2 linked regions of the Homo sapiens genome follow. The protein of the gene in region 2 purifies or fractionates together with the protein of the main gene of each other region. This does not show direct contact. Each region holds a gene or a part of one and is shown on either strand. Other genes may lie near its edges.

Evidence for each region. Proteins that work in one complex are often made in the same cells at the same time.
Region 1: the proteins of POLR3B (region 2) and POLR3C fractionate together in Homo sapiens (co-fractionation; 4 studies listed by BioGRID and IntAct, with this or other methods). This does not show direct contact.

What each region holds. Positions count from the first base shown.
Region 1 is NC_000001.11:145,841,149-145,844,903, forward strand, and holds the end of POLR3C (DNA-directed RNA polymerase III subunit RPC3), read left to right. Parts: intron 1-1,190; coding exon 1,191-1,272; 3' UTR 1,273-3,254; downstream 3,255-3,755. UniProt on the Homo sapiens protein: DNA-dependent RNA polymerase catalyzes the transcription of DNA into RNA using the four ribonucleoside triphosphates as substrates.
Region 2 is NC_000012.12:106,455,188-106,458,842, forward strand, and holds part of POLR3B (DNA-directed RNA polymerase III subunit RPC2), read left to right. Parts: intron 1-1,950; coding exon 1,951-2,109; intron 2,110-3,655. UniProt on the Homo sapiens protein: Catalytic core component of RNA polymerase III (Pol III), a DNA-dependent RNA polymerase which synthesizes small non-coding RNAs using the four ribonucleoside triphosphates as substrates.

The DNA of each region.
Region 1 (3,755 bases), on a different chromosome or scaffold from region 2:
CTTAGCATGAGCAAACCTAAACTCACTGTCTCCTCCAGCTCACTTAACAGAATTTAATCCACCTATTTTTGTAAACTAGCAATTCTGAAGATGTTCTGAGCTTCTTCTCCATCACCATATACACTCTCTTGTTCATCAAGTACTGATAAATTTTTTTTAAGAGACGGGGTTTTGGCTGTGTTGCCCAGACTGGCCTTGAACTCGTAGGTTCAAACAGTCTTCCTGCCTCAGCCTCCCAAGTAGCTGGGACTACAGGCAAGTGCCACTGCGCTGGCTTAATTTTACTTGAGTCATGTGTCTCAAATCTGGCCTTTCATCTTGGTCCACACGCAGGCCTTCATCACCTCTTTCCTAGACCTTCACATTTCAGTGCACAATTTGTGCACCTCTTTCATTAAATTTATTTCTTAAGTATTTTTTTGGATACTAGTTTAGTGGTCGCTTATTTCAGTTTTAGATTGTTCATTGCTAGTGTTATACAAAAACAACCAACTTTGGTGTTGTGATTTTGTATCCCACAACTTTACTAAATTCATTTATTAATTCTAGTAGTTTTTTTGCAGATTCTTTGAGATTTTTTATAATAGGATTATGTCATCCATGAATAGAGAGAGTTTTACTTCTGTCTTTTCAATCTAGATGCCTTTACTTTTTTTTTTTCCTGCCCCATTACCCTGGCTAGAACCTCCAGTAAAAGGTTGAATAGAAGTACAAAAGCAGACATCTTTGTTTTGTTTCTGATCTTAGGAGAAAAGCTTTTAGTCTTTCACCATTAAGTATGATGTTAGCTGTGGGTTTTTCCTAGATGGCTTTTGTCAGGCTGAAGAAGCTTCCATTTCTTCCTAATCACCACTCACTTTAAGCTTCAGACACTCTTAGTTTCTTGCTATTTTAAAACACACTAGGTCCTTTTATACCTGTGCCTTTACGTTCGTTTTCCTGATTGCAAATGAAGACTACCTTCCCCCAGGACAGAGGCTCTGTATTTTGTATTCTTAGCAGTTTGCATGGTGTCTGGCACATAAAGATGCTCGGTAAATAGCAAAATGATCTACTGGTTCTCCTGCTTTCTTTCCATCCACTCTCAAGGGTAACCAAGCAGTTATCCATGGCCACACCCACCCTAACCTCTAATCTTAAATATGCTAATGAACATTCAGTCTAGGCAAATGCCTTTACTTTTCACTCAGGTTGGATGCCAGTGAGATCCAGGTGGACGAAACCATCTTCCTGCTGGAGTCTTACATTGAGTGCACCATGAAGAGACAGTGATCCAGAAGAAGCATCTTCCTCAGAAGATCTGGGGGGATGGAAAGCAAAATAAAGGAGGTGCCTGGATGCATTATTTGCAGTGGGATAAGTCGCAGAGTCTTCAACTAAACCCCCCTCTCTATCCCCTGCAGCCCAGGATACACCTGAAAGAATTTGGCATATTTAGATCCATTGCTGTAGTCTCCCCTCATCAAATCTTGGCAGTGGGAAGAACCTTAAATCAACAAGGTTAATCATCTATCAGATGCATCTGTTCCCATAAAGAAGTTACCCACACCTATGGTTACCTATATCCCTGGCAATAGGAAACTTCCTAAGAAGTTAATTTTATTTTCAGATGTCTATGCCTGTTCTTTATTTTGTTGAGATAGGTGATAGATAGATAGATAGATAGATAATTTGTTGTTGTTGAGACAGGATCTCACTCTGTCACTCAGGCTGGGGTGTAATAGCGCAATCACAGCTCCCTACAGCCTTGACCTCCTGAGCTCAAGCAGTCCTTCCACCTCAGCCTCTGGAGTAGCTGGGACTACAGGCATGCACCACACATACCCAGCTATTTTTTATTTATTTATTTATTTTTTTGTAGAGACAGGGCCTCCCTGTGTTGCCCAGGCTGATGAACTGTAATTTTTAACACACACAGTGTAGGGAATGTGAAAGACTATCACAGAGTAGAAGAAAAAATTATTTTCAGGGTTAGCAGGTGGATTGTCCCAAGCAGTCACACTAGAATCTGTGGACTGAAGCCACATTTGCCAGCTCCAGGCTTCTAACACATCTGAAACTGTGTATGTAGAACAGCTAGCTCAATGCCTGGCATATGGTAAGCACACAGTAAATTAGCGCCTTCCTCTTCTCCATGGTTCCTTAAAACTGGCAACGCTAAATTCTCTCTCTCAGTATCACGGATATAATTTGTCCCAGCAGCTTTAATTCATTTAAAGCAGTTAGATGTTTTATAATATCTTCAGTTTTCTCTCACCAATGTGTTTTCTAATTGTTTAAACACTTGAGTGTCAAACAATTGCCAGCCACCATACTAAACACAACATACAAGGATAGATAAATAAGACACCATCTCTGCCCTCAAGCCAGTCACCATCATTTACTAAGCACCTGTTTTGTGCTAAGTACTGGGGTAAGCCTTGGGGATATAAAGATTAATAAATTTTGAGCATACAGTCTAGTAGGAGGAGACAAATAAGTACATAAGTACCAGGAAGTATTAGGGGTGCTACAGTAGAAGAGTAAACACTATGTACAGAGAGGCCAGAAAGGGAAAAGGGTCAGGCAGGGAAGGGAACACAGAGAGTGACAATGTATAGTTTGAAAGATGAGGATGCTTTATTTGCAAACTATCTTAACAAGGGATTCGTAACCAGAATATATAAGGAGCTCAAACAATAGCAAAAAGAACAATCCAACTTAAAAATGGCCAAAAGATCTTAATAGGTAGTTTTCGAAAGAAGATACACAAATGGCCGACAGATACATCAAAAAATGTTCAACATCACTAATCAGAGAAATGGAAATCAAAATCAATGAGATAACATCTCACCCCAATTCATTACTTTTATCAAGAAGAAAGAATGAATGCTAGTGAGGATGTGGAAAAAGGAGAGCCCTGCCTGGTACACTGTTGGGAATGTAAATTGGTACAGCCACTGTGGAAGACTACAGAGGTTCCTCAAAAAACTAAAAACAGAACTATGCTCCAGCAGTTCCACTACTGGGTATATATATATCTCCAAAAGGAAAGAAATCAATGTATCAAAAAGATACCTGCACTCCCATGTTTATTGCAGCAGTATTCACGATAGCCAAAACATGGAATCAACCTAAGTGCCCATCAATAGATGAAAGGCTAAAGAAAATGTATTATTCAGCCATAAGAATGAATGAAATCCTGTCATTGGCAGCAACATGGATGGAATTGGAGGTCATTATGTTAAGTAAAATAAACCAAGCACAGAAACAAATATTGCATGTTCTGTCTCACATAGGAGCTAAAAAAGTGGATCTCAAGAAAATAAAGAATAGATTGGTAGTTACCAGAGGCTAGGAAGGATGGGGAGGATGAAGAGAGGTTGATTAGTGGGCACAGATAATACAGTTTGAAGAAGTAAGACTGGTGTTGGATAGATCAGGGTGGCATAGTTATTAATTTACTGTACATTTCAAAACAGCTAGAAGATAATTTTGATGGTGCCTAAATCCTGTAATCCCAACACACTGGGAGGATCAGTTGAAGCCAGGAGTTCAAGAACAGCCTGGGCAACAGTGAGATTTCATCGTTACAAAAAAATTTAAAAATTAGCCAGGTGTGGGTAGTGCACATCTGTAATCACAGCTACTCAGGAGGCTGAGACGGGAGAAGCGCTTGAACCAGGGAGGTGGAGGTTGCAGTGAGCTGAGATGGCGCCACTGCACTCCAGCCTGGGTGACAGAGCGAGACTCCGTCTCAAAAAAAAAAAAAGGCC
Region 2 (3,655 bases):
ACAAACTCTGGCGTGGAGTTTTTCTGCTTTTCTTTCTGTTTTTGACAATACTTTCACAAGTCACCACCTCGTGGTTTGTTAGACATCACCTGATCTGAAGTCTGACTTCTCTATTCATAATCTCGATTTCTCTTTTTCCTTCCTGGCGTACCCACTATGCCTTCCCCTTCCCTCTTTGTAGTTGCTAGGCAGCCATAATAGTACTCCTAGACATGTGTCTTTGGCATTAATGTTGGCCACACTTAATTTATGCCTCTTTTTTTCCTCCAAATGACAACAGCCATGCTTTAAAACTAGATGTTTTCCTTTCTGATTAACTGGTAACGTTTATGTGGAAATCTGAAGACTTTGTGATGTCTGTCAGAAACTCTGCAACCCAATTCAGTGATCTGAGTTTACTATCCCCTAGCTTTTAAGCTATCACCTGTAAATAAAATGTCTGTTTACACTTTGAAGAAAACACTTCTTGATTTCATGCAGTTAAGATTCACATTGCACTCCAGCATGTTGCAGTTAATGGCTACTGTATGAAATTTCAAGATCATGTAATGTTTCCAAACCAGCTGGCATTCTGAGCCGAGTTTATTATGGCCATACACAATTTCCTAGGAGCCATGATGACTACGGCCTTGCTTAAAGACACAAATGTCTTCATCTGACGTCCAATTTTAGAAATTCGTTACTTCATCTCACAGTCACCTTCATATTTAAAAAATTACATTACAGCCCTGAGATTTTATTTATAAATCCACTTTTACCTGATTGATTTCTAAAGTCACATTCTTAGATTTCTGTTTTTGGTGGAAAATTGTTAAGTGAAGGATTTTACTGCCATGCATTTATTTCATCAGTAATAAGCGGCATTTAATCCTGAGACATTTCTTATTTAAGTGAACTCTGGCATGGCTCAGTATATCCTGAGGAGATTAGTAAGAGAATCCAGTTTAAAATAACTGCTTGGCCAAAGGGAAAAAAGAAAGAAATGCAGCCACAGAATCAGGAAATTATAGTGTTGAAGGAATGACAGCTGTTTTGGGTAACTCTACAACTCATGGATTTTTTCTTTTAGGGATTCAGTGGTTGAGTTTTTTTGCCCCACCCAAAGGTTTTTCTTCTGTCCTTTTTGCTTATTTTTCTTCCTTTTCTTTTCTGATCCATTGCTAGACAGCTTATTTTTCTTGATGTTTAGATTGTTAGTTGATTTCACAGCCTTTCCCTCATCCACTAGATAAATGCAATCTAAAAATGTAATTAAACTCCAATCTTTAGGGCAGAGGAGAACTATTTTTCCCATTGAAATAATTTGATTATTTCTTTTTTCATTCTGTCTCTTCTCTGGAGAAAAATTATTGTTTTTACTTGTTGGCTTAGAACTTGCTCTAAATGCCAAATTTTAAAAAGGAAAACTTTCCAGGGAAGTTTAGCAGAAGTTATGCACCAAAAGGATGTGTATCCTGGCTCAGGAGTCAGTGGACTTGTGCTGTTCAACACAATTCTCAACTCTGCTGCCAACTTTTTGGATGACCTTGGCCACTTAATTTCTCTAGACCTCACTCCTAGTGCCTGTAAAACAGATAGGTTAAGCAGGTGATTTCTAAGGGCCTTTCCAATTCTAATATTCTATGGCTCTGTCCTCTGAAAGAATCACAGCGCCAGTCTTAGATTTCTCTCACCGTTCTCCAGTATGACAAGGTGTATTCCATGCAGAAAATGGTTGTAGAGATTCCAGTGTTTACACAGACAGTAGGTAGGGGACAAGTCCTGTGCTGCTTCTTCAGATTATCAGATTTTTATTTGGTTTGTACTGGTCCCAGATTATTATCAAATACAGAGAAGTTTTGGGATTTGGGGGAGGGTGAGGTGGAGTGGATTGTTGAGTAGCACAAATCCATATTTCCTTATAGCTTTGGGTTACTGGTGGTTCTAATGCCCATCTTGGTTTCATTTTAGGCTTTGGGCGTTGCCTTGTATATAAAAATGCTAAATGTACGTTGAAACGATACACCAATCAGACTTTTGATAAAGTGATGGGGCCCATGTTGGATGCTGCTACAAGGAAACCTATCTGGCGACATGAAATCTTAGATGCAGATGGTATTTGTTCTCCAGGTAAAAGCCTTTTAAAAGAAAAAATTTTAATACTTTTTGACATCATATGTTATTCAATAATATTTCTGAATATTTGGCAAAAAGGGCAGAAAAAAGTAACAACCTATAAAACCACCATCCAAACTCAACCAATGAGGTCATTTTTGATGAATTTCCTTCCAGTCTGTTTTTCTATACACTATGTTTTTACCTATCAGTAATCTATGCTAACTATAATTTTCTAGTTATAATTTTGAATAATAGAAAAGCCACTTTAAGGAAATATTTAGAGTAGTTTATGTCCCTGCATCTGCACTGGTATTTCTTCATTTACACATTTAGCTTACAGACTACTTTAGAATTTTATCCCCCTGCAAAGGTATGACTCCATTATAATTACAAACTTGTAATGCATTTTGTTGATGAAACAAATAGCCCTTGCCCTTATGGGTCTCACAGGCTAGTGCAGGAGACTGACATTGATCAGAGGATCATGCATAAATCCAGGTTAAGGAATCATATAGGTAACTATGAGGCCATTTTATAGCAAGAGAATTTGACCTTGTTGGGAAGATCAGCATGGCTTTCCCGAGGAAGTGAGCTGGAATCTGAAGGATAGGGAAGAGTTAACTAAAGAAGAGGATCAGGGAGCATGTTCTAAGTAATGAGAAAAGCTTGTGCAAGGGTCCCAGAGCTTGGTAGTTGAAAGGTCTGAAAGAAGACCAGCGTGGCTAACAAGAAGAGAGTGCAGGGAAGCATGGTGCACATGAGTTGGTGGGTGACGCAAGGGGTAGGGGCCAGAGTAAGCAAGTCCTTGCAACCATGTTAGTATTGTCTTTATTTTATTTTATTAATTTTATTTTTGAGACAGGGTCTCAGTCTGTCACTGAGGCTGGAGTGCAGTGGCACAATCTCAGCTCACTGCAACCTCTGCCTCCCAGACTCAAGTGATTCTCCCACTTCAACCTCCTGTATAGCTGGGACCCATAGGCACGTGCCACCATGCCTGGATAGTTTTTTGTATTTTTTGTAGAGATGAGGTCTTACCATCTTGTCCAGGCTTGTCTTGAACTCCTGGGCTCAAGTTCTCCACCCACCTCGGCTTCCCAAAGTGCTTGAGCCACCATGCCGAGCCCATGATACTATTTTCATTATGATCCTAAAAGCAATGATATATTCAGATATGTGTTTTGAATGATCATTCTGACTACAGTGTAGAAAAAGGATTAGAAGGGCACTAAAATAGAAGGTAGACCTGGTACCAGGAGCTGTGGTGAAGGTGGAGAGAACCCAGTTTGTGAGGAGGGAAATCCACATGACTTTGTCATGGTTGGCCTGTGGGCGGTGAATGCTTTATCAAGCTGTGGTTCCAAAGAGACACAGAGTACGCGACTTCTCCTCCCTCCCTCTGCCTTTGTTTCTTGGAGAATTTTTCTCACCCTAACACTGGTCAGTATGGCTTGGAAAATACGCGCTGTGACAGTACTACAGGTAGTTGGTCTTTGAACTTACCAGGAAGAGATACAAAGCAAAAATGGGAATAACAGCATAACCAAAGAAATATTTT